2 separate regions of the Homo sapiens genome follow, and region 2 is linked to region 1. Evidence: fine-mapped expression QTL. A gene starts in region 1. The other region holds a variant in brackets. All regions are shown on one strand. Distances are from middle to middle.

Region 1 (12,858 bases):
GTGACTTTTCTCAATTGTTCCAAGAATGATACATAACTAAAACCGTTCTAAATGCACTGGAGCTAAAAGTTAAAATTCATTGCACACTACGGCACAATTGTCTCCAGAAAGCCGGGTGAGAAAGGCTGCTGTAAGTTCCTCAGAAAGTGTCACTGTACTACTAGGCCCCAGTCACCCAACCCCAACAGCACTAAAAGAACTATAATGAGTGCACAAATCTAGAACTTAGATAAGAAAAAAGATAAATGCTTTATCTCCAACTTTAAGCAACTAGGTATTTTTACTTACTAGGAATAGCATGGGGCTCAACTGTCTCTTGCTCTGAATAGAATGCATTTACTTAACAAAATAAACCCACAGAACTATAATGTTTCTCAAAGGGAATTATCAGCTCTTAGAAAATGAATTTTTAGAAATCAGCATATTAAATAAATATTAACTATTAACTTGACAAGGCTTTTCCTATTCACCCTTCTTTAGCAAACTTAAATATTCATCTTCTAATAATTGCTAAATGCAAATTTTCACTTTAAAAAGATAATGATAAACATTAAAAACCAGTTTGCCCTTCATTCTCGCACTAATCACCAATTCTCAGAAACTGCCTTTTATATTCTTCAGTGCGGACTACAGCAACTTCAACTGTTAGGTTAGTTGTGATCAAATCACTTTAAGGACACCAGTAGAGTTCTTTTACTCAAAATCAAAAGCAAATGACTTTTAAAAATAGCCCAATTTTAAGAGGGATGAATATTTTTAAGAAGCAAAAATTACTTTAAAACAAGGTAGCTAATTAAAAGTCAAGCGTCGTTCCAATTGAATTTGCAAAGCGTTACTAAAAAAATGGGAAAAATGAAACATGACATTCCTGTTTTTAATTTATGCTGGCGTGTGTGCTGATAGTACAGAACATGAGAACGGATAAATTACTACGTATTCCACTTTACTAAGTCTCCAAAGTTCCTACGTTTACAAATATATAAGTAAAAGCGGCACAAAAATGTAGGGGATCGTGTTTTCGCTGCTCATCTGTGCTCAGTTGCTAATTTTTCTAATACCAGATACATAATGCGATGAAATGGGAATGCTTATCTTCTATACTTCTATTTATTTTCATAAAGGGGAGAGGGGAGGTGGTCTTGATTCATTTACTATTAGCGTTTTGCAATAAAGTAGATCAGCATAAAACATAACTGAAGAAGTAGGATTCATTTTCCCCAGGACAACGCACACTTCCTCCTGTTTCTGTAGTAAAGTACATCACTTTGCTATTAAAAATGTCCATTTTTCACAACTGACTTTTCCTTAACTCTAGTCAACACTGCTCTTCAAAAGAACCTAGCCAATTATTGTACCTTGAAGACAGATGTGCAAAATTTTTACTTCCTTAAGAAACTTTTCCATTTTTTAAATGCTTTCCAAATTAAGCAGGACTCACATTAACTGTGATCTTAAGTAGCAGTTTAGTGAGGTTTAAAAACAAACTTTTCATTAACGCATTCATCCAATTAAAATGACATAGTAACTGGGACTACTGACACAGATTTCAGGATTACAGCTTTATACTAAAAGTCGGTCCAAACATGGTAACTCAGTGTTCATTTGAGACGCTTTGACTTTTGGCCTTTAAAAACTGTTCCCCACTCGAGTCCCCAGATAGAACTACATTTAGCAACTGGTCTCCTCCTGACTTCCTGGTACTAAAAACCACAACCACAAGGGCTGTTTCGTCGGTTTGTTGTAAAACAACATTTGCTCCAGTCATCTCACTGGAAAATAGACTTTCTCTACTGGGCAGCCGCTGAGGTGAGGGTGCTCAGGATGTTTAAAAACAAAACCACGCGTCTATGCGGTAGCGGCACCGCCGGTGTTAAGCGCCGGGTTTCTTCCAGGATGGAGACCGACGCGGGCTGGTCCGGGAGGCAGCCCCCGGCGCCCCGGCAGAAGGAGAAAAGGAGAAGGGTAAAAATAGCCGGCGGCCACGGCCCACGTGCAGCCGCGGGAGGACCGAGCGCGGGTGCGCGGAGAGGGGTCCGTACCTCCAAACATGTGCGGCGAGAGGTGAGCTGGTAAGGAGCCGATCACCAGGCGCGGCCCGCCGGGGCTCCCGCCCACCGGCCGGTCCCGGCCGCCGCCGCCGTCCTCAGGGCTGCTGTGCACCGAGTCCTGCGAGCCGTACGGGCCGCTGCTGCTGTTCGGGATGCTGAAGGGGGACTGCGCCGCGCGGGCCCCCGACGCCACGCTCCCCACGGCCCCGCCGAGGGAGCGGCTGCGCGGGGCCGCCGGGGCTGCCGGGGCCGCCGCGGCCGCCGCGGCGCCGCCGGAGGCGCTGGGCTGGTGCGCGCTGGGCACCTGAGCCGGGAACCTCCCCGCGGCGGCGGCCCGAGCGCCCCCGCCGCCGCCCGCGGTCCCATTGGCGCCTCCGCTGCTACTGGAAGGTAGATCCGAGCCCGAGTACGCGCGCGTGCGGCCGTTAGCGGCGGCCGGGCCGCTCTGTTTGGCGCCCATGTCCGCCCTGCCCCGGGCCGGGCCCGCGCGCTGCGCCCCGAGAGCCGGGAGGGCGGGAGCGAGCGCGGGAGCTAGAGGGCAGGGCCCAGGCGCCGCGGCCGGCCCAGAGAGGCCCCCGCACGTCCAGGGCCGCCGCCCGGCGTCCAGAGGGGCAGTCGGCGCCCGGCGCGCTCTTCTTGGGGCGGCGGGCGAGGCCGACGGCCTGACGCGGGCGCGGGAGACGAGGAGACGCGGAGAGGAAGGGGTCCCGGCTGCAGGCACCCCTCGCTGGCTCCAGCAGGAAGGGGCGGCTCAAGTGGCCGTGCGGCTGCCGCTGGTTTCGGTTCTGGTGCGCCACGACGGGCCGCTACCGCTCTCTGCTGCCGCGCTCGGCGCCCCCGATCTCGGCACCGCCTCCTCTCGGGCGGCCGCTGCTACCGCCGCCATCCTCCGGCTCCCACGGCGGCTGGCGGCTGAGTGGGAGGCGCCCGCCCAGACTCCGCCGGGGCCACCTTCCCTCCTCCCCCAGCCACCCAGCTGTTATTAACGGAGAAAGAGGAAAAACGGGTGGCGCGCGAGGGGAGAACGAAAAATGGGAGGGAGAGGTGGCGCGCGCTTCCCGGCAACCGTCGCCTCGCTCCCCCTGCGAAGGAGGGGCCGGGCTGGCGGGAGGATCTGGGCCGCGAAGGCGGGGGGTGCGCAGATGGGGAGGAGGTTCCCCGGCCCCGCGCCGGAAGGCCGCGGAGCGGCGCGGCTGCAGGGTGCGCCCGGCCCGTGTGTTTGGGTCGCGCGCGTTGACCCCGCCCCCGCCCCCTCGTGCCGCCAGGCCGATTGGCTCCCGCCGGCCTTGCTCCGCCTCCCCCTTCCGCGACCTGCCTGCCCCTGCTCCGCCTCGCCAAGGTACTGCGGTGTGGTAGGTGCTGCCACTCGTGGACTCGGTGATGGACAGGTCTCTGGCCACGCCCTCCCAGCCAGGGCGCGCCCTTGTCTTCCTCGCGGGGCCTACGCCGATAGGAGGAACGGACACCGGGCGCCAACCAGAAGGCGGCCCCTCCTCCCGCACGTGGCCCGCCGACGCTGTAGGAGCCTGTGTCAGCTGCAGCTTTTCCTGGCAGGGGGCGTGAATGGCTGTGTCCTCTGCCCAGAGCCGTTTGGTTTCGGTGGGTGTTGGTGTTACACACTGATTAAAAAAAAAAACAGAAGCTCAAAAGCCAGCTTGATCTCAGACTTACTCATGAAACACCAACCTGGGAGGAAGCGCAGAGTTGGAAGAACTCGGGATAATCCAGGTTGACCCTCTGTGGTAGGGCAAATACTGTGGTGCCAGGAACGCTGCACCTGACTCACAAAACCTAGAATCTAGGCCCAACACCAAACTAAATTATCTGTAGTGAGCAAATTATTTTACTTTTTTGGACTTTAGGTTTATTTTTGTTTTTGTTTTTGAGACGGAGTCTCGCTCAGTCACCCAGGCTGGAGTGCAATGGTGTGATCTCGGCTCACTGCAACCTCCGCCTCCCGAGTTCGAGCGATTCTCCTGCCTCATCCTCCAGAGTAGCTGGGATTACAGGCACGTGCCACCACGCCTGGCTAATTTTTGTATTTTTAGTAGAGACGGTCTTTCACCATGTTGGCCAGGCTAGTCTTGAACTCCTGTCCTCAAGTGATCCACCTGCCTCGGCCTTCCAAAGTGCTGGGATTACAGGCGTGACGTACCGCACCAGGCCGACTTTAGGTTTCTTACCTGAACTGTTTGTGTTAAATCCTAGGGCACCTGCCTCTTTAAAATCCTATAACTTCTCTAAAATGTAATAAAATTCTCCTCAGTGCCTTCCTCAGTGTTGGTGTGGTCTCTTCACGGCAGAGCAGGGTCTGGATACCCAGGGAACAGCCTGCTCTGAGACTCCCATTATGAAAATGTCTAGTCTCTACTTGAAAATAATAATAGCAAGTGGTGTTTTATAAAACTACAGAAATACTTTGTCATCTTTTCACTATTTGCAATAAGTCATTTATGTAATGATTTTCATCACTCTTAGGGTATGGGAATCAAGTTTTTAAACAAATGGAGAATATATGTATACATATAAAGACGTGTATCTGTGTACACAAACACACATATATACATGGAAAAACAAAGGTACCCAGTGCTTTATATGCAGTATCATGTTAAGATATGGTCATCATTTTGGTTAAGTGCCCTCTCCTTATAGATGTTTCCTGCCACCTCCTCCCCCATCCCAGCATCACAGACTGACTTCAGTGTTCCCACTCAGTGCTGTACAATACCTCCTTCATAGCTCTGATCATGTTATTATTATTATTAGATATCTTGCTTGTCACTACTCAATTGGCTCCATGATAAACTTCATGTCTGTACCTCCAGTGTTTAACACAGTGTCTGGTCTTGCCATGGTGCAATAAATGTTTTGTGAATGAATGAATGAATGAGTGAGTGAATACATGTATCCTCACCAGTTGTACTAAAACGATTCTTTCTTGAATGTCACTCATTAACTTATCATGTTCTTATTCTCCTTGACATTTCGCTTGTGGTGGGTGCCCCTTCCACCTCCTCTCTGGTGAGCCTTGTTTCTTTCCCCACGAAGGTTCTGGAGATAAAATGCTGGCCTTCTATGTTCTTTCCTTGGCCTTCTTTCCTCTCTCCTCACCCCTCTCATCTCTCTCCAGTCACCAGCATGAAGCTGTCAATGTGTGTTATTGTCAACCAAACAGTTCTGACTTCGTTGAAAATGTGTCGCTTATTTATTTATTTATTTATTTGAGACAGAGTCTCGCTCTGTCACCAGGCTGGAGTGCAGTGGTGCGATCTGGGCTCACTGCAACCTCTGCCTCCCAGGTTCAAGCAATTCTCCTGCCTCAGCCTCCAGAGTAGCTGGGTTACAGGCACGTGCCACCATGCCCAGCTCATTTTTTCGTACTTTTAGTAGAGACAGGGTTTCACCATGTTGGCCAGGATGGTCTCTAACTCCAGAACTTGTGATCCACCCGCCTCGGCTTCCCAAAATGCTGGGATTACAGGCGTGAGCCACCATGCCTGGCCATCACGTCTTTAGTATACCTACCAGTTCTTCAAAAATTAAAAGTGCTGCTTCATCCAAATGAGTACACACAGGTATACACACATGTAGAACTGCAACGGGTTTTTGAGATAATACCCATGCTACCTGAAATGCACTCTGCTTTCTATTTGACTTCACTTTTGTAAAATGCTGGTCACTGCTTATTGGATTGATTTTACACCCCCCTATGGGGATGTAATCTGCACTTTGATAAACAGTAGTCTAAATCAGTGCTTTGCAAACTTTAGCACACACAAGGATTACAGGAAAACCTTGTTAAAACAGGCTGTTGGGCCCCACCCTCAATGATTCTCATTCCATAGCTCAGGGTTGGGCCTGGAGAATTTGCATCCTAACAAGCTGCCCAGTGATGTTGCTGCCATCAGACTTCGGACTCTTGTTTGGAGAAGCACTGGTCTAAATGACGCTTTCCTCTACAATCAGAACTGTTGTTTTAATGCCTTCACCACTTATCAAGAGACCAGAGCCCCAGCTCTTTAAAATTTTTCAAATTTGAAGGTTTTAAAATACACTATATTCCTCCTGATGCAGTTCAATGATATTTTGACCAAAGGCTTTGGGGGTGCAAAATTAGTCTGAATGTATTGTTAAAGCACTTCACATTGACAAAATTATTGTCCACAAACTCACACTGGAACAGGTAAGCTACTTCTGGGCTTTCAATAAAAATGCCTGACCAATCAGTTTGTTGTTGTCTAGTTTGAAGTTTAGTTGGGGCAAGCCTCTTCCCTTTGTGTTCCCTTACTCTCCTTTGCATTCCTCTTTCCTCTCTTGGTTTCTCTTTTAAAACTCTGCTGGATCAGACCTTTGATGTGTGGGACAGCAAATTTGCATAGTGACACCCATTAGTCCTCTTGGTCGGGGACCACAGCCTCTCTACAGGGCTGTCCTGCAGCCAGCAGTAGCCCTACACATTTTGCTAAGGTTTTGCCATCCCACTTTTCCCCTTGTTATAGGATTTAAGAGATGGTTATGGCTTTGCTTTTTTTTTTTTTCAAGTAAGTGTTCATACACTACCTCATCTCTACCAAAATAGGACTATATGTATAATTGCCTATTTTTAAATAGGCCTATTTTCCTATTATTTTGCTTTTTAAAGAAACAAATGGACCATCTAAACATTAAAATGAATCTTAATACATCCTACATATGTGTTAATACATCCTACATACACTGTCCAAGATCTTAGTGGTGATTAGAAACTTACATCTTAAATTCAAAATCTTAGTTTGTAGTATTTAGGAGTCACATTGTTGGGTAATTGTTCAGAAAACATCAAAAGTTTATGTAATGTCTTTAACAAATTTTTATCCTCCCTCCCCTGTACTTGTATTAGTTTTTTAATGAGAAGCAAAAGACAAGAGCCAATCATGACAGGATTAAAAGTACATGCCGTGAAGTGGTTGAGCTCAAGCTGGGGTTAGGCCCTGGCTTTGTCTGACACTGGCTGTGGGATTTAGGGCAAGCCACTTAACCTGGCTAAACCTGTTCCTTCTGTAAAACATGGATGATCATATAGCAATACCAGTCTCACAGAGTGGCTATGATTCTCAAAAGATTCATTCTCTATTTGAGAGTACTTTCAAATGTGTTAATAGAGAAACAAATTTTAATCTCAATGTTATTATCCCTAGCAGATTGTAATAATTTCCATATCATCTCTAGCATGTTGTGACATTGTACAGTTTAATATATACTAATACTCAATGAAATTGATTTTACCATTTTGTGAAATTTTAATACATTATTGATGCATAAGGATGTATTGGTAATAATTCGTTAGTAGTAGTTTACTAATAAGTATTTACATCACTGCTATAATAATGATGATAGTATGATATGTCATGACACATCTATATCTTTCCACCATGGGATGGATGGATGTGTGTGTGTGTGTGTGTGTGTGTGTGTGTGTGTGTACATATACTCATAGATAGCTAGATAGATGAAATTTGAAAGGAAATTATCATTAAGATATCAGAGACTACCTATTTGAAATCTCCAATATTTAAACTCTTAAACATTTTTTTTCTTTTGATTCCACAGGGTAGTTAACACTTTGACTAAAGAGTCTTTGGGTCCTAAATAGACTTAAATGTGTCACAAAAGTATTTCATGTTAATTAATCAATGACTGGAGCCCTATGGCTATGTTTAACATAGATTCCAGAATCATTTTCCTTTCTAAAAACAGCTTGAGATATAATGTCAGCACCTGCTAATAAAAATAATTTTTGCTTGCCAAAATGGTATGTAGTATTACTAAGAGCTTAAATATTTATATTGTGTTCTATTCTCAATTAATTCACTTGGGCTTTCAAACGTTGTTTTTTTTTTTATCTGTAAGAGCCCTAATTTAAAAACCCTTAATACCAACCAACCACAACCCATGATGCTTTTACTCCATTATAAAGGAAACTCTCAGATTCCATACATAGTGTTTTGAAAGGAATCCAAGATCTTTACTGGGGACATACTGTTGAAAAGACATAAAATTTAGTGGAAAAATGTATCATGGGGTCGGTACCAAGGGGATTTTCCCAGCCTACGGAAGTGAAGACTAGCTTGGAGAAAAAATAGCCCTCTGCTACATAATGCATGTGGTCCCTCCTCCAGTGCAGATGCACCCTCCAAACTGCCTCCTGTCACTTGCTTAAATCATGAATACTGTACGTGAATGACTGTTGTACATGAATGATTAAAACGTATTATAAGACATTTTCCCTTACCACTTCCTCCCTCAAAGTTAGTCAAAAGCCCCCGTAAAGGCAAGCCCTACATTTTAGGACTAGATTGTTTAAGCCTCCCAAGTACAGGAACTCTATTTCTGCTTTATTTTTAACTCTCCAGAGTGCCTGCTTATAGAGAGCTCAAGGACAATCTATATGCAAGAGACTTTGAGTAACAGCTATGGCTCGCTAAGGACAGGCAGCAGTGATTAATGCATGTCCGGAATTACTACCAACTTAACAGACTGTCGTCACCACATTAAGTTTGTGTGTGAAGTTGGCTGCCTTCTACACTGTTCAGCCAGGGCAAGTTTGTGCATTAGGGGGCCAATTCCCTTTGAGTTGCTATTGAATGATCTACGCCCCCAAGTTAGGCCAGGTTGGAAAGGGTAAGGTCATAGTTGCAGAACTGCCTTTCTTCCACCATGAGAAGATAGAGCAACAAGAGCTCCTGGTCAATTTACCCCACCCTCTGTTTCCCAGAAGTTAGCTGGGCTCTGGCTGAACTCTAGGGATACAAGTCTAAACTGGGTAGGTTTTGGAACATAGCCCTGAGCTGGGTCATACCTGGTGCAGGGAAACATCGGAATAACTTAGGACCCCCAATGGAGATATTTTCATTCTTTAAACAGAGTAGCTGAGCATCTGGGGATGTAAAGTTAAACCAACTAAACACCATATAGCTTCAAAAACCTTATAGCTTCTAATCAAGGGACTTAGATAGAAATGAAGAGATGGTCAGAGTACCATGTGGTAAAGGCATACTGGAGCTGACTGAAGGGATGGGGATTGGTGAAGGACAAAGATGTAGTCTGAGAAGGGACGCTGGGCTGAGTCTTGAGAGACTTCTGGCTTCAGCACCCATAGGCATTCCAGGCTGAGGGAGCATGAAGCAAGGGAGAGCTTTGAGCAGCTGAAGAACTTCAAGCAGTTAATTATAGCTGGAATGAAGAGTAACAGGTGAGAGGGTGAGAGAATAGGCTGGAAAGCTGCATGTAACCGGCCTGGTGTGCTGAGCTAAGAAGTTGGAATTCATCCAGAAAGCAAAAGGGAACCACTTTCCCAAACAGGGAAGTAGCAGGATCGCATTTACAGTATGGAAAGACAACTCCAGCAGTATTTTGGAGAATGGATTGATGGGAGGGAGGAACGCACAGTGAAGTGGAAGACTAGTCCAGAGGCTAACGTAGTCATCCAGGCAAGAAGTGAAGAGAACCTGAATTAGAGTGGTGGTAGGGCAGATTCTAAAACTCTTGAGAGAGCAGCCACCGCAGGTCTTGGAGGCCAATTGGATGTCCTACGTGACCAAGAAGGAAGAGTCAAGGATGACAGAGTCAAGATGACCAGGGACAGATAGTCCCTGGTCCTAGCACTAAGTAGGACTATGGGGGAAAGAGCACATTTGAGGAGAGGGAGCTGAATTCAGCTTTACGTAGGCAGAACAAAACCAGCCTTGTAGTTATGGCAAGGCATGGGGTTAGGTTCTGTTGGCTTTAGGCCTCCAGCTGTATGTTGAATTTGCACAGGGGTATGCACAGGTTACCCTAGTCTGGTCCCTCAGCGCACCGGATTTCACTTTGCTCAGTGTTTCTTGGTGTGGGAATCACGTCTCCAGCTCTCTCTGTATGTGTTCACCCTGTGCCTGCTCAGTGCTGTTCTGGGGATGGACACCCTGAGCACAGGGGTCAACAAAGGAGTGGAGTTAGTGCTCAGTTCAGTTGGAAGGTGACCAAATATGAATGCTGGGTGTGGCAAATTAATTTTCATTGTTATCACTCCATGAGCGAGGGAAATGCAGCCCTTGTTATTTTCCAACATAGTCTCCAGTAGAAACAGTTGTTTGTGACACTGAATTAGTTTGTTAAAAAATTCATACCTGAAAAATTGCATCATATATTACTTTAAAAGTAATGACTGTAGTAGGCAGAAAAGTGCTGCCTCTGCCCACCCAAAAATGTCCATGTCCTCATCCCTGGAACCTCTGAATATGTTACCTTACTGAAGCAAGAGAGACGTTGTAGTTGTCAATAAATTCAGAATCTTGAGATAGGGAGCTAGACCTGGGTGGTCTCTGTGGTCCCAGGGTGCTTACAAGATTCCTTAAAAGTAAAAGGGGCAGGCAGGGTCAGAGTGGTTCAAAGAAACGCTCAAGGCTATTGTTGGTTTTGAAGCCTGAAGAGGGCCACCAGCCAAGGGATGCAGGTGGCCTCTAGAAGCTGGAAAAGACAAGGAGATGGATTCTCCCCGAGACTCCAAGAAGAACACAGCCCTCCTGACACCTCAATTTTAGGTGAGTCAACTTAAGTCCCATTTCAGACTTCTGACCTCTAGAACAGTAAGATAAATTTGTGTTGTTTTAAGCCACTGAATTTATGATAATTTGTTACATCAGCAATGGGAAAACTAATACAATGACTATTCTTTAAGGTTTCAGAAGGCAGCTGATTACAAACTACTTCGAAAAAAAATCTGATAAATATGGCCACTAAATCCCTATGTGGCTAATCACATATACTTTTCTTTTTTTTTCTTTTCTTTTTTTTTGAGATAGCGTCTTGCTCTGTCCCCCAGGCTGGAATGCAGTGGCCCGATCTCAGCTCACTGCAACCTCCTCCCCCCGGGTTTAAGCAATTCTCCTGCCTCAGCCTCCCGAGTAGCTGGGATTACAGGTGTGTGCCACCACGCCCGGCTAATTTTTGTATTTTTAATACAGACCGGGTTTTGCCATGTGGGCCACACTGGTCTCAAACTCCTGACCTCAGGTGATCCACCCGCCTCGGCCTCCTGTAGTGCTGGGATTACAGGCCTGAGCCACCACATCCGGCATTAATCACATACACTTCTTCTTGACTTCCTGCCCTCACTCCTGAGCCCTGGTAGTGTAGGGAGCCATGCTTTCTTGAAGCTAGGCCTGCAGGTATCTGGGCTAGCATGCTGCTGTCAAAAGAACCGCATGGAACTTTCCATTGCTGGCCTTGGAACATCCTTGTAAGCAGGCTTCCAAATGTAAGCATTGAGATTAGAAGGGCACAGCATTAAAAAGAACAACCTTTGGTTCAAAGTTTCTGTTTGTATTTTCTAGAACTCTTAAAAGTCAATATATGTAGGTGGACAAAATATTTGGTGAAATTACAGTTCTGAAAATAGCCTTATGTTTGCCAGGACTTGAGGAAGGCCCCCAAGTGATGTCTAGTCCACCTCCTGCAAAGGCAAGAAGGCGGAGGTTGGGAAAGTCCACACTGACATCTAGTGATACAAAACTGCACTGCCAAAGGCTCCAACTGAAGCTATTTGCAGCAGTGGGCTCCTCAATTCTGATGCATCTACTGCCCCCCAAGAGGGCTTGAAGACTCAGTGCACACCAGCCAATTTCAGCTGCCCTGGTGGGGGCCAAAGCAGTTCAGGCTTCTTTATGTTTCACTTACAAACTTAGTTTGGCCATCTAAGAGTTTTGCCTCTTAATTTTTGAAATGATCATTTCAGCACATTTTAAAGCTATAGAATTTACTGCTAAAAGCTTCTTTGTGCTTGCAGTGGCCAGACCCTTTAATGCCAAGTGAATTTTTTTATTTTCTATATGTTCTCAGAACAAATGCTTGGGCTGAAATGTCCTGAGCAAGGAATGATCTGCAGCAGGGGATGGAACCAGTACAGCAGGTACTTGTCCTTTTTAGGCCCTGAGAACACTGTCTGCATTTCATTTTCAGCAACTCAGAAGTCTAAGGTACAGAAGAAATGACAGAGAATGCTTCTTCTGTCTTTCCATTTTTCTTCTATACACCAATGAAAATAAGTCAGCAGAGATACGATTTCTAGTTCCTTCCTTAATGGCGGCACAGTTAGAAGCAAGACTGCATTTTTAAGGTTGTTGCAGTAACCCAGGTGAAAAAGAATGAGGAGGCTGCACAACAATATGAATGTACTTAATGCCACTAAACCACTTAAAATTGGTTAAAATGGTAAATTTTGTGTTACGTCTATTTTACCTCAATTAAAAAAATAATGAAGGCTGGACAGCATCAGTAACAGTAGGAATGGAAGAAGCTTTTGCAGGACTGATCAAATGATTGGATGCAGATACGTTTTCACATCGTTCTCATAGGCAAAATGTACACATGAACAAATACTAAACTGTTTAGAATACTAATGCCAAAAAACTTCTACAACCTCCACATCGAAACAAACAGACCTGAACATTAGGAAATAATCAGATTTTACAAGGAATGTGTTTTTTATACACTTTGGACATTTTCTTTCATAATATGTAAATATCAAAACCTTCAAGCAAATCATACAGACAAGAAAATAACATGTGCTGCATTAAAAACATACAGACTTAGCAAAGAAAGGACAAAAACAAAAAACCTCCTAAGGCAGTTTTGACTCTCAGAAATATACGAGAGAGCTAAAAACACTGACAGAATTCAGTTGCTTCTGTGAAGCAAGCGAAAAAGGGGAAAATAAATAACTTTTAGGAAGGCACTCCAGACCTGACCTGTACAAACAGCAAATTCAAAGGTTTTGAAAATGATGAGTTTT
Region 2 (12,858 bases), 90 kb before region 1:
AACCAACACAACCAACCACATGTGCTAAATGAATGAATGCTAAATGAATGAATGATAGTGACTGCATTCTAGTTCAAGTAACTCCTATACACATTCTTCTTCAGGGAGATAAGACTTCTGAAGATTACCAGGTAACTGTAAGAATGAAAATCAGACTAGTTATATATTTAGGCTTCAGTAGCTTTCTAGTGATTGATATGAGTGTAGCAGAAGACTATTTTTGAACATTTTTCATTCCTAGTTTGTGTTCCTAGTTGCTTATGGCATTTTATTCAATGACTCATTGATGGTCACTGCTTCGGAAGGGAGAGAAAATGAGGACAAATCAGATATTATTTTGAATGTCAAAGTCAAGTTCTTTAAATCCAAAGGAAGAGAAGTGTCTGGAAGCCAAATGCTTTTGATTTGTCAGAGCCATTCTGGAGGTAAAAAGAGCTTTTGGGAATCTACAAATTCTTTTGTGAAAATTAAGGATCGGAGCCTGGCTGAATTAGGCATTGTCCTATAAACCAGATTTGGGGAGAATGCATAATGATGCCAGAGCAGTTTTCTCATCCAAAAAGAGTCAAGAGTTTGATCAAGCAGGAAAGAAAATTGAAAGGAATATAGCTACAGCTGAGTTACAGAGGTCTGAGACATTCTTGGCACCCTTTAACCCCTATTTTTGAGGTGTATGAGAAAACCTTTGATAGGTTGTACACTGGCTATACAACAGAATCACACTAGATTAACTCAGAATATCTGGGGTGAGGTCAAGACCTTAATATATTTAAAGAGATGCCTCTATACGTCCTTCCTACCTCCTGAGTTGACCTAATGTTAAGCCAAGTATTGAGAACCACTGGCTTACAGGGATCCCAAAGAAGACGAATGTAATGTCTATCTTCCCATGGTGTATGCCAAACTTATAGACAACCTCCCTGCCAACCCTTGCCTGCTGACTCCATTCAAGATGGCATTTGAGCACAGAATCTCTAGGCAAACTAGGGAACATCTTACTGAAGACAGTTTAGACTTGACTACTGGTGCCTCTTATGCGGGATTTTGAAGACTCAGCTTTATGAATTGAGGGTTTGGTGGACAAGTTTGACAGTTTAAGCACTGACGTGGGCAGGAAGCCAACTATTAGCTGGAAGGTCTGAAACCCATGAAAATGCCGCCATAGAACTCAACACAAGGGACAAATCTGACTACAGCTATTATTCACCAGCATCACTCACAATTCCTGATGATTATTTGGCCAAAGTGTCACAAACTGCAATTCCTAACTATATCACTGACCAGGTATTAAAAGCCCATGTGCCCTCACCAAAAACCATAATCACAATGAAAGCCAATGCTATCTATGAATGTACATGAAGATGATTCATTAGACCCTCAACCTTTTAAAGGTATTTCCAGCTCTTTCATTTAAAAATGAGGAAACTGGGACAGGCACGGTGGCCCACGCCTGTAATCCTAGCACTTTGGGAGGCCGAGGCGGGTGGATCACGAGGTCAGGAGATTGAGACCATCCTGGCTAACACAGTGAAACCCCGTCTCTACTGAAAATACAAAAAAAAAAAAAAAAAAAAAAAAAAAAAAAATTAGCCAGGCGAGGTGGCAGGCGCCTGTAGTCCCAGCTACTCGGGAGGCTGAGGCAGGAGAATGGCGTGAATCCGGGAGGCGTAGCTTGCAGTGAGCCGACATCGCGCCACTGCACTCCAGCCTGGGCGACAGAGCGAGACTCTGTCTCTAAAAAATAAATAAATAAATAAATATGAGGAAACTGCCTCAATTTTAGTAATAATTTAGGACAAGTTCTGCTCAAGTGCAGCAGTTAAATAAACTTTGAAAGAGACCCAAGAGTCTTCACAAAGTTGGAATTAGAAGGCCTTCAGAAATATTCAGGTAAGGAGAGATAGGAGTAGAAGTGTCTCCCAGAGTCATCTAGACCTGTGCTGCCAGCACAGTGGCCACTGGTCACATATGACTCTTGATAACTTAAAATGTGGCTATAGTCCTGAATAGAGATGGGCTGTAAGTGTAAAATACACACCAGATTTCAAAGAATAAATATATGCTAAAACAATAGTTTGGATATTAAATACCTTTGGCCTTTGCAACATTTGAATTCCAACAACGGATGAACTTTATATACCATTTGATGAATATCATCTATTTGGATAATATCCTTAGTATTTACAGATTTAATATTCCAAGTGTTAATGTACTACCTTGAAAGGCAGGCACACAGGCTCTGATATTAGTTATTTGATATTTTTCTGAAATATAAATTCATATTTGCTAACACTGTAGAGTCTATGTTCAGTTACCCAACTAGTTATCTTGCCATCAAATGATCAAGCCAATTAGAAAGCATTAAATCTCAAGGTGACTTTGTTGGAAAGATATTTTTTAATTACATACTCTTTAAATCTCTTAATACACATTAAATTAGAAGGTTCATAGAAAACATTACTATAAAAATAAGGCACTACATGGCAGAATTTTAAAACCCTGCTTCATAATTACAGCATCATTAAGGTACTGCAGAAAAATCATTGTTATTTTTACTCATTTTATGTGAGAAGTCAAATCTTAAACCATGTGGTAATATTTATAAAAACAGGTACTTTGGCATCTTTGAATATCTCCCTGTCGGATATTAAGTTTACAATATTTTCACAGGCCTTGCGTGGTAGGAATTCTTGGTCTAGGAAGTCTTAAGTTAACTTTAAGAGAAACTTGTGAAAACTTGGATTGGTGTTTCCATGAGTATGTTGTTATCAAATCAGGGAATCCGTGAGGAGAGTTGCCTCCTTGACCCACAAGGATATCCCAAGGTTTCTGCTGCTCTTCCAAGAAATGTAAGTGTACCAGTATTCGTTTCCTGACTTCTGCTAAACAAAAAAGATTATGATGGGGCCAGCAGCAACTCATAGCCTTCCAAGAAATCATAAATCTCTTCTGGTCCTCCTCTTACCTAGGCCAACCCAACCTATCTCAACAACAGCATCCATCAGGAGAGCAGGCTCTATCTTTCCCATATGTCTACATCTACAAGACCTTGCTTCCAACAGATTTACTTGTGTTGTGAAGATCTGAGAAGACTGGTATAACGGAGAGAGTATGGGACAAATGAACCAAAGGGAAAACCTCAAGAATGCTTCAGAGTGCATCTCAGCATTTCCTAAGTAAACCCAGGAAAGCACGGCTGCATTCCAATAAGCAGCTAGAGCTAAGCAGGGAGGTGACACGAGGAAAAGTCCAACCCAACCAACCTAGACATCGTTAAACTAGCTCAACTATCCCACTTATCACATACTTACCGACATTTGGGTAGAGACACCTCCTGCAGCCTAATAGACACTGCTATGATTTGAATGTTTGCCCCCACTGAAACTTGTGCTAAACTTGATCCCCAATGTATCAGTACGAAGAGGTAGGGCCTTTAAGTGGTGATTGGGTCATGAAGGCTATCTATGTCCCCATAAATGGATTAATCTATGCATGGATTAATGGTTATTATCAAGGGACTGGGTTAGTTACCACAAATGGGTCTGTTATAAAAGCTAGTTTGGTTCTCCCTTGTGAACTCCCTCACCAAATGATGCACTGTGCTGCCTCTGGACTCTGCAGCACTGGCAATAGAATGGACAACTAGAACTTGTCCCAGCTGGGTCAGTGCTGCTCTCTAAATCTTTAAGTTTTGTTCTTCTGTACTTGCTTTCCCTATTTTCATTGCTTTAGTTCTGCCCTTCATCATCTTGCCTGAATTAGTATAAATTTTCTAACAGGTCTCTCTGCCTCCAGTATCATACCTCTCTAATCTTAAGTATAAATGTGATTATCTTTTTCCTGTTTGAAATCCTTCAATTACAGTTTCAGACACAAATCTCTTCATGATTTATCACCTGTTTACCTCTTCAGACATAGCAACTTTTTTTTTTTGGAGACAGAGTCTCATTCTATTGCCCAGGTTAGAGTGCAGTGGCACAATCTCAGCTCACTGCAACCTCCGCCTCCTGTGCTCATGCCTCAGCCTTCCAAGTACCTGGGACTACAGGCGCACACTACCATGCCCAGCTAATTTTTCTATTTTTAGTAGAGATGGGGTTTCATCATGTTGGCCAGGCTGGTCTCAAACTCCTGGCCTCAGGTGGTGATCCACCCTGCCTCGGTCTCCCAAAGTGCTAGGATTACAGGCGTGAGCCACCGTGCCTGGCCAACTTTTTTTTTTTTTTTTTTTTTTTTTTTTTTTTTTTTGAGACAAGAGTCTCGCTCTGTTGCCAGGTTGGAGTACAGTGGCACAATCTCAGTTCACTGCAACCTCTGCCTCCTGGGTTCAAGCAATTCTCCTGCCTCGGCCTCCTGAGTAGCTGGAACTACAGGCGCGCACCACGCCCAGCTAATTTTTGTATTTTTAGTAGAGACAGGGTTTCACTGTGTCGGCCAGGATGGTCTCAATCTCTTGATCTCGTGATCCGCCCGCCTCCACCTCCCAAAGCATAGCAACTCTTTAAGAGTGTCTCGCTTTCCTCCTATGTTTGTATGTGCTAAGCTTTTTGCCTTGGGAATACTCTTCCCAAACTTTCCACTTTGTATGTTCCACATCCCCTAGAGCTATGATCTATTTGTTCTTCAATACTTAAGTTTAATCACTCTCTTGCCTAGTCTGAATAACTTTCCTTTGTACCTCTACAACACCTTGTACATATGTCTATCAGAGCTTTTATTGTTCTCTATTACATGCTTGCTTGCTTTACTCACTAAAAATTCAGTTCGTAGAGATCAGCTGTCTCATATCTACATTCTTGGTCCATACAATCTACAGAGTCAAGTAGTGCTTTATACTTGCTGATATAGTAAAGTCACTGGCTTTTAGTGAGAGTGGAAATCAGCACCCATAATGTTCTCTGTTATACCTAGGTTTCTTTAAACATTTCAGTTAAGGTCTTAGATATTACTACTACACCTCATGACTGGAGCGAATACTAAAATTATTCATAAATGGGCACAAATATGTTTACTGTTTATACTAGCCACTAACATTATTAAGTGCTTACTATGTGTCTGGTGCTTACATACATGTACTCTTCTAATTAATCCTCACACCAACCCTGATGTAGGCAGTATTATCTCCTTTTACAAACAAAGTTGGTGGGGGGGGGAGGGGTGGAGGCCTCTATCTTGCCCAGTGTCCCTAAGACTGTTTCCAGAATTCATGTTCTTACACTAGGAAACTCAATACCTTTTACATCATGAAAATTGTGCTTCAAAAGATTTTTTACTTTTTTTCAAAACACAATGAAATGTTACTAAATACAAGCTAAATGTTAAAAGTTATTGATTATACACTAGCAGATCATCCCTCCCCAAAACTTTTTTTTTTTTTTTTTTTTGCTTGTCCCACTGAGTTTTATTGTAGGGATACACACAAAGGATGTGCCCTCAATTCCATAGTTTCTTGATGGACATGTTTTTCCTCACTGTCCTTTGGCATGAGATAGGACTTTGGACTACCTCAAAGTCCTTCTGAGTGACATGGACTCGCTACTCAGGGCATACATGCCGGTTTCTGTGCACATGCCCTTCACTTCAGCCTGATGCTCCTGGCATAAGCTCAGCAATTTTTCTCAGGTTGATCCCCTGGGTCAGGTTCATTTCTGAGAATGAATCTTCAAAGTGACCAGCCAGGCCTACTCATTGCAGGTTGGGAATTCAATTTTTCTGTCAATGTGCCCTGGGCAAAGCAGTGCCGAGTCCAGGATATCAATCGTATTAGCAGCCGTGATAAACCGTGATACTCTTGGTGGCCTCAAAGCCACCCTCGAAGCATCATCTGCTGCACTTCACTGTTCCCTCCAGCATCCCCCTCCAGCTCTGAGGAGCCAAAAGAGTCAATTTCATCCATGAAGATGACAGATGAGCATTTTCTCTGCCATCACAGAAATTCCCCAATGAATTTCTGTACCAATTCAGAGCCAGAGACATGAATAAAGGTACACAGTCCCTATGATGAGCCAGAGCCCAGGCCAACAGTCTCTTCCAAGCAGCATTCCCTTGGGCTGTGCAATGCCCAGTGCTTTGAAGAGCTCGGGATGCTTAGCAGGCAGGTCGATCACTTCTTTGATCTTCTTGATCTGCCTATCCAGTCTACCAATCATTTCATAAGCTGAATCTGGTACTTTCTTCACCATCATCAGTGACACCAATGAGTCCACCTTGTTGGGTAGGATCTTGTGCAAAGTGTAGCTGTCATTTCTTAGAACCACCAAGGAACTGGGTGTCACATCACTGATGCTGATATTTTTGTCCACATCTATGACAAACTTGTCCTTGAGATGCACCTTGACCAACACTTTCTTCTTACCCATGGCCTGGACTACTT[C/A]CCTGACACAGGAGTCCTATTCCTGCAGCAGCTGTAGCTCCTCCTGTAATAGGCACACTTTAACATTTAGTTCATTCCCGTGCACCTGCCGCCTCCAGAGGTTTTGGGTCTTATCATTCAAAATCAGCTGCAAATGCACCTGGAGTTCAGAACTGTTCCTTGTGGCTTTCCCCCATCCAATTTATATTGCAGTTGACCCTGGAGTTCTTCAATCTTGGACAGATAATACTGGCAGAGTCCACTGCCTGCCTTTTCCTCCTCCAGCTCCATCTGCTGTGGTCCGTCAAGCGCCATCTTGTCTTTTCAGCAGAGAACGCTGGCATCTGCTTCCCTCCCCAAAACTTAACAGCTGTCCAATCATATTTAAATTACAATATTTACATATAGGTTTTACATCAGAAATGTCAAAGTACATCTTTTACTAACGGTTAATGTAACAAAGAAAGACTTCTTTACCCATTACTAATACAAGCATTATTACTTAATATAGAATTTTCATTAATAATCTTAAATTCAATTTTGTGGGAATGGATATACAAAAATAAAGAAGCCATAACATTAATTCATGGTATTTTTCAGCATTCAGTTATTTCTTAGTTTTATTGCAATTCATTGTCAACTTCTAGATAGAAGGGAGAATATGACAAATTTCCTTGAAAGCACTCTTCTCTTATTTTCTACTTCTAAATAGTGGGATAATTTAGCAAGATCATTTGGGAGTTTTATTTATTAAAATATGAATAATGAGTTTTTCCATTTCAGTTTAGAATATACTAATACAAGTTTTTCCTAATACGTTTTCTCTGTCTTGTGATTGATGCTTTTGATATCTTATTTAACAGGAAAATACCTAAGAGAGAAAATTAAGGTGTTACAAAAAGAGTTGTGGAAACCATGAATAAAGCAATAGAGCCACGATTTTCAATGAAACTCACATAAACAGTTATTATAAAGAAAGAAAATGTAATAGGCTAGTGTAATAAACAACAGTATCACCAGATTCCAAAATCTCTTTTGACTCTGTAAGGGTCTGCTAACTGTATTATATGCACCTAGGTACTCAAAATGCTACTAATAATCAAACCGTTTGAAATTTTGGTACCAGAATTACCAGTAACAGGATATCAGCAGAACTTAAGTTTATCAAACATAAATCATTAGTACCTACCAATTTCAATCTACTAAGTCAGAAAAGGAAGGCATGAGAATTTAGTAATAGGAGAACTTTGTCATTTCCAGTGCCAAGACTAGGGGTCCTGACAGGTACCTCACTGTACAGGTCAGAGCTAAGAAACACAATGTTGGTTCATGTACAACACTGGTTCATAGAAAACACAATTTTATCACTTAAAACTTTTCATTTATTTCTGGGATGTTTGTTTATGCCATGCTGTTCTTTGTCTCTCCATAAATGAGCAACCAAAAATCTCTCTTATTATTAGCCATTGGTCTAAAATTAATGATAGCTTAAATATCTAAAAATAAACCAAGCCCCTTCTAAGTACAGTAATGTTGCACTTTCAACCAAAACTAAGTATTAATGTATCTGGTTTCCTTCAATGCCTTTCATTTTCCACAGAGAATCAGGTGACTTTGGAGACTGTGTGTTTCACATTTAATACAGGAATTATATGATTTAAAAAGAATATTCAGTTTCCCAGTTTAAGCAAGTCATTCACAAAATATGATACTCAAAGTATTGTTTGGATAAGTTACTACCTAGAAAGATTTACCAGCTATTTTTTTAATATGAATCACTACTACAAGTATACCATGTAGCAATTTCCTCTAAAGAAAACCAAGCAATTTAATTTTAGAATGAAATGATCTGGGAAGAAAAGAAAAGTAGATAGTAAAACAGAGAATTTAGCTACTGTTATTTACAACATAGCAAAGAAAAAATCAGAAGTTACACACTTCAGAAAAAAAGGAATAGGCCAAAGACAAATGTTGGCATGCTAGAATTTTTTTTTTAAACTAAGAAAATACCTGTACAAGAACAAGGGACACTGAACAAGGGCACTTCACATTTAACCACCCATTGCCAACAGATATTGAGTTCACCTCAGGGTAAGAAAATGGTCCAAATGAACTAGAAGACTTCCAGCAAGTAACAAACTATACTCATATTTAATAAGCACCATTTACCTCTATGTAGTTTTATATAGTTCTCAGCAATGTGATTTATATGAGCGCTTCCTCTATGGAAGAATAAGATGATTTGGATATTACTATCAATGCACAGTACGGATGCCAATTAGATGGTAAATTCAATTATTCTTAAATTTTAAAACAACAAGTTTCATGCTTTGTTCAAATACAGCTTATTTTTTGAAAAATTCCCCTCTTCCACTCTCCTAACTTGGTACATAAAGTTAGGTAATATTTACATTGAATTTACAGTCTTTTTCATTTAAAACAGTATCAGTATATCTTGCTGTAAGATATTAATTTAAGTGATTGTTGTTAACTTCACTATACCCAAACTTAGCAATATGGCTGTGAGTCAAATAAACTTTGAAAAGGAACCTGCCATTTTCATTAACTCATTCTGACTGTAATCTTTGAAATACATATGGCAGATACGCTGAGGCTGGCCCGTCATTTTGGGGCTACATTTTAGTAAAGTAGCTAGTGAGTGAAAACTGAAATAATTATACAACATTTAAGAGAAATATAAGTCTTGCACTAAGAAACCAAAACCTACATATTATGTAACATAACCTTTTTAATGTTGTTTTTGCTAACACAAAAAAAGTTATACCATTATTTATATTTCAATCACAACATTGCTCTAAAACACAATCTATAATCCGTCTTGTAACCAGATCTGAAAAACACATATTCAGACTATTCTTAGTTTGTATCTCTGGCAAAAAGCCAAAGTAAAACGGAATAATTTTACTTTCTCCTAAACATTCTGGCAAGGGGGGGAAAAAAAAGCCAGATCAAAGTAAGATGAGGATTCAAAATTGGCAATAAATCCATTATGGACAAACAGTGGCACTAAAGTGAAATTTCAGAACATATTGCTTTCTATATATGCACGTGTGATCTTATTTGAACGTGAGTATTTACAAAGATTCTAGAAAGCTAAAACCAACTTGGTAACCTAGGCTTTCAATCTTTATTGTGTCCCCCATAATAATTAGTTGTCAGAAGTTTCAGCTTAGTATTTAAATATCTATTGTGATTTTATATCTTACTTATACTATTCAGTGTTTGCAAAATAGATTTACGAATATTTTAAGTGACATTATATAGAACATTACTTGTATTTTCCAGAATAACGACTTTGACTTTGAATAAAAACTGGAGCATTTGGGCTTTAAAAACATTTTTCCCCCAATTTCTAAGTTGCTCTTTTTAGGAAGTCACTGATAGAGATGGAATTTAAAGTAAAAATGCCAACTTTGTAAATTTTGTCAAAAAAGGGATTGCTATAAACAGACTTAAGTGAATACTGTTCCAGACAAATATAATCATCAAGTAGCACTTGACACTGACAAAACACTGAACTTTCTTTAAAACCATAGGAGCTTCTATTGTAGCAAATGCAGCACAGAACCTTATGACAAAGAGGGGCTAAAAAGTGAATTTAAGCCAATATAGGTTAAAAAGTAAACAAGTGAACTATTAAATTGGCGCAAAAGTAATAGCAGTTTTTGCAATGACTTTTGCATTAACCTATCAGAAAATCAACTTCCAGGAGAATACAGTTAATCCCCACAGCTGTAATAAATCTCTTCCTTTAAGAATGGAAGACAACAAAATAATTCTCATCACAAGAGTATACCAGCAATAGAAAATGAACCAATTATTCACATTCTAAGAGGTTTTACTTGAGGGGGTTGAGCAGGAGGGTATGAAAGCTTACAAAATCAAAAATGTGAAATAAAATGAAATCAAATTAAGACTTCATGGTAACAGAAAAAAACAGAAAAAGAATCGTTTCCTTAAGGGACGAATATTTTTCATAACTAGTAAAAAAGCACCTATTAAACTGTGCCTTCAGCTGTCACAATGGAGGTTTTGGATTCCTTTAGCAATTGCAGCATAACAAAAGGCATTTCACAGCATAACTTCAGGGAAAATGTTATCTGAGCTGGAATCATACAGAAAGCAATTAAAAACTCTTTAATTATTTATAATACACACATTTTTCTGGGTAGCAGCAGTTGCTCCTGTACTTGCCCTTTTAAAAAATGTGAAACAGAAGCAAGAAAGTAGGGGGAAAAATTTAGAGAAGATTAAGAGTAGCAGCGTTAAATAAAACAGCAAATTCTTAAATACATTATGAGTAAAGAAAGATTAAAATAAGGAAACAGTACTTACTGTGCAACTTTAAATTATACCAAGTAAAGTACACCACCTATTCACTGATAACATTTTCCCTACGTTGAAAACACAAAACCTACTTATCGATATTTTTGATATTAAAAAAAAGGACATTCACTATTGTAGCCCTGACAACTCTTCCAGTATTTTTAACCATTCAGATGTATTATGTGGGAATATTTATTAACATAATTTTGTTTAACACATTTCTTTCTACACAAACTGAATTTAAAAGTGTCTATAACATTTTCAATTACAGTAATAACACATGAATAAATTATAAATTAACAAAATCTTCATATCTACTTTAAAAAATCATTTATCAAATGCTAACCTCCAGATTATCTGGAAAATTAAAGTTGCAAATTGCTATAAACCTGGCATCCCAATTAAATTACAGTTTTTAAAGGTATATAAAATCTCCCTCAAATTCCAAGTTCCTCTCCAGAAAATTTTATTTTACCCTTTTCTTAAGTTTACAGCCTGCTAAACATTTTACCCAAATGTGAGAGAACTGCCTGGAGATGCAAAGCACAATAAAATAATTAAGTGAAAAGAACAAACAAAAGATACCCGTTAAAACAGTTATTTTAGCTGGCAGCACTTGAAATTGGTAATCTGTATTTTTTTTAAATTGCATAGCTGCAAGATGATTCACTGCTGATTAACTGTTGAGCAGTTTTATTTAAGAGGATAAGAATATTTAATAAATTGCAATTCAGTAGAATATTCTATATTTAATTAAAATGTAATTATGTAATATGATTTGCTCTTTGGACTGCATTCTGATATTAAACCTTTAATTTAAAAATATTAACATATTTTAGCTTTCCTATGTAGAAGTCTATTTTCCACTCGTGGGGGAGAAAATGGAAGAACTTGAGATCATGGTCTACATTCAGATGTTTTTACTGCTTGATTACATTTCTTGGTTTCACATTTAAGACTTCAATTTATAAGAAGTAAATTATATGTTTTTCAATTTAAGAACAGATGAATGCAGAAACATTATGAACATTATGTTGGGGAAAACAAAGAGACCCCAAATTAAAAAACAAAACAAATCAAAACATAACTAGTTGTGCAGCTCTGGAGAACTTAATAAAAAGTAAATCAACTTTTAAATCAGTTAACTTTGGCGTCTGAATACAAAATGTTTATCAGTATTACCTATGTAGATGACTATTAAGGGATGTGCAGCATTTTCAAAATCCCTGTGTGTCCTTTGTATGCATGTTTGGTACACTGAGTTCTGTGGTCACTGTCCTCTCTTCAGCAGGGTTTTTTTACCCCAGTACGATTGTCCATCTCTGTATTACCAAGTCTCACAAAACTCAGATTTCTGGCTGAGTATGCCTGCGTCTTTGTTTCTCCAGAGACAGATTTTCATATCCTCTTGGTTTTTCAAGCATCTTGTCAAGACAAGAAAACCTGTGTAAAAATAGATTTCCCCATGAACATTGCTTTAGTTACTGTAAGTCTTCATACCCTTACTTACTATTCTGAAAACTCATAAAATCAGTGATCTGGAGAAGAACAGATTAAGAAACAGAAGGATCAATTAAAGTTTAGTCACAAAAAATACATAACAAAGTCATCCCCCTTTCACAATAAGGACTACACGCAAGTAAAGAATGCACACACACGGAGATTTAAAATATTTCTCCCAAATAACTAAAAACCCCAAAATAAGTACAGCAATTTTCTAACTAATCAAGACCACAAATATTCATGTCTCTCTATTTTGGGTTGATTATTAAATTCTTATGCTGAAGGATATCAGAAACGTTGAGCTTTATGGCTACACAGTGCCTTACAAAATGTTTTAACAACACTGAATCCTCCTCAAACCCATATACCTTTAATCTAGGACTATTAAAAGGTATACAAGAATTTATCACTTGATAAATAAGAACAGTCAGGACAGAAGCAAAAATGTACAAGTCAAGATATTCCATGTCTATAAACTCTTAAAAATGACTCTTCAAGACCCACAGAAGCAGACTCCATTGGTTCAGATTTCTGTAGACACCTGATTAACAGAGTTCACCCTGCCCATGTAGTAGGCTAGTTTCAAATTCAGGTTCTATATTCGAAAACAAACAAATAAGCAAATATAACACTCATATGTAACATAAGAAAATGGA

What was found. PIP is the estimated chance that this variant, and not a neighbour inherited with it, causes the effect.
Region 2: its variant is fine-mapped to the expression of ZNRF2 in whole blood (INTERVAL, PIP above 0.99).

What each region holds. Positions count from the first base shown.
Region 1 is chr7:30,275,008-30,287,865 of GRCh38, reverse strand. It overlaps ZNRF2 (zinc and ring finger 2), which reads right to left and starts at 3,269. Exons shown (of 5, transcript NM_147128.4): 1 at 2,040-3,269. The coding sequence starts at 2,508. LOC124901607 (a long non-coding RNA gene) reads right to left here. Exons shown (of 3, transcript XR_007060274.1): 3 at 3,612-3,667. LOC105375218 (a long non-coding RNA gene) reads left to right here and starts at 1,781. Exons shown (of 4, transcript NR_136267.1): 1 at 1,781-1,806. RefSeq lists silencers at 2,024-2,153, 2,304-2,383, 2,464-2,853, 2,934-2,983, 2,994-3,423 and 1 more and an enhancer at 8,397-8,516.
Region 2 is chr7:30,365,319-30,378,176 of GRCh38, reverse strand. It overlaps ZNRF2 (zinc and ring finger 2), which reads right to left. Exons shown (of 5, transcript NM_147128.4): 5 at 10,488-12,142. It also overlaps the pseudogene DKFZP586I1420. Among named protein-coding and RNA genes, the nearest start is that of LINC01176, 19 kb to the left of the region's middle. The variant C/A (reference allele first, on the strand shown) is at 6,374.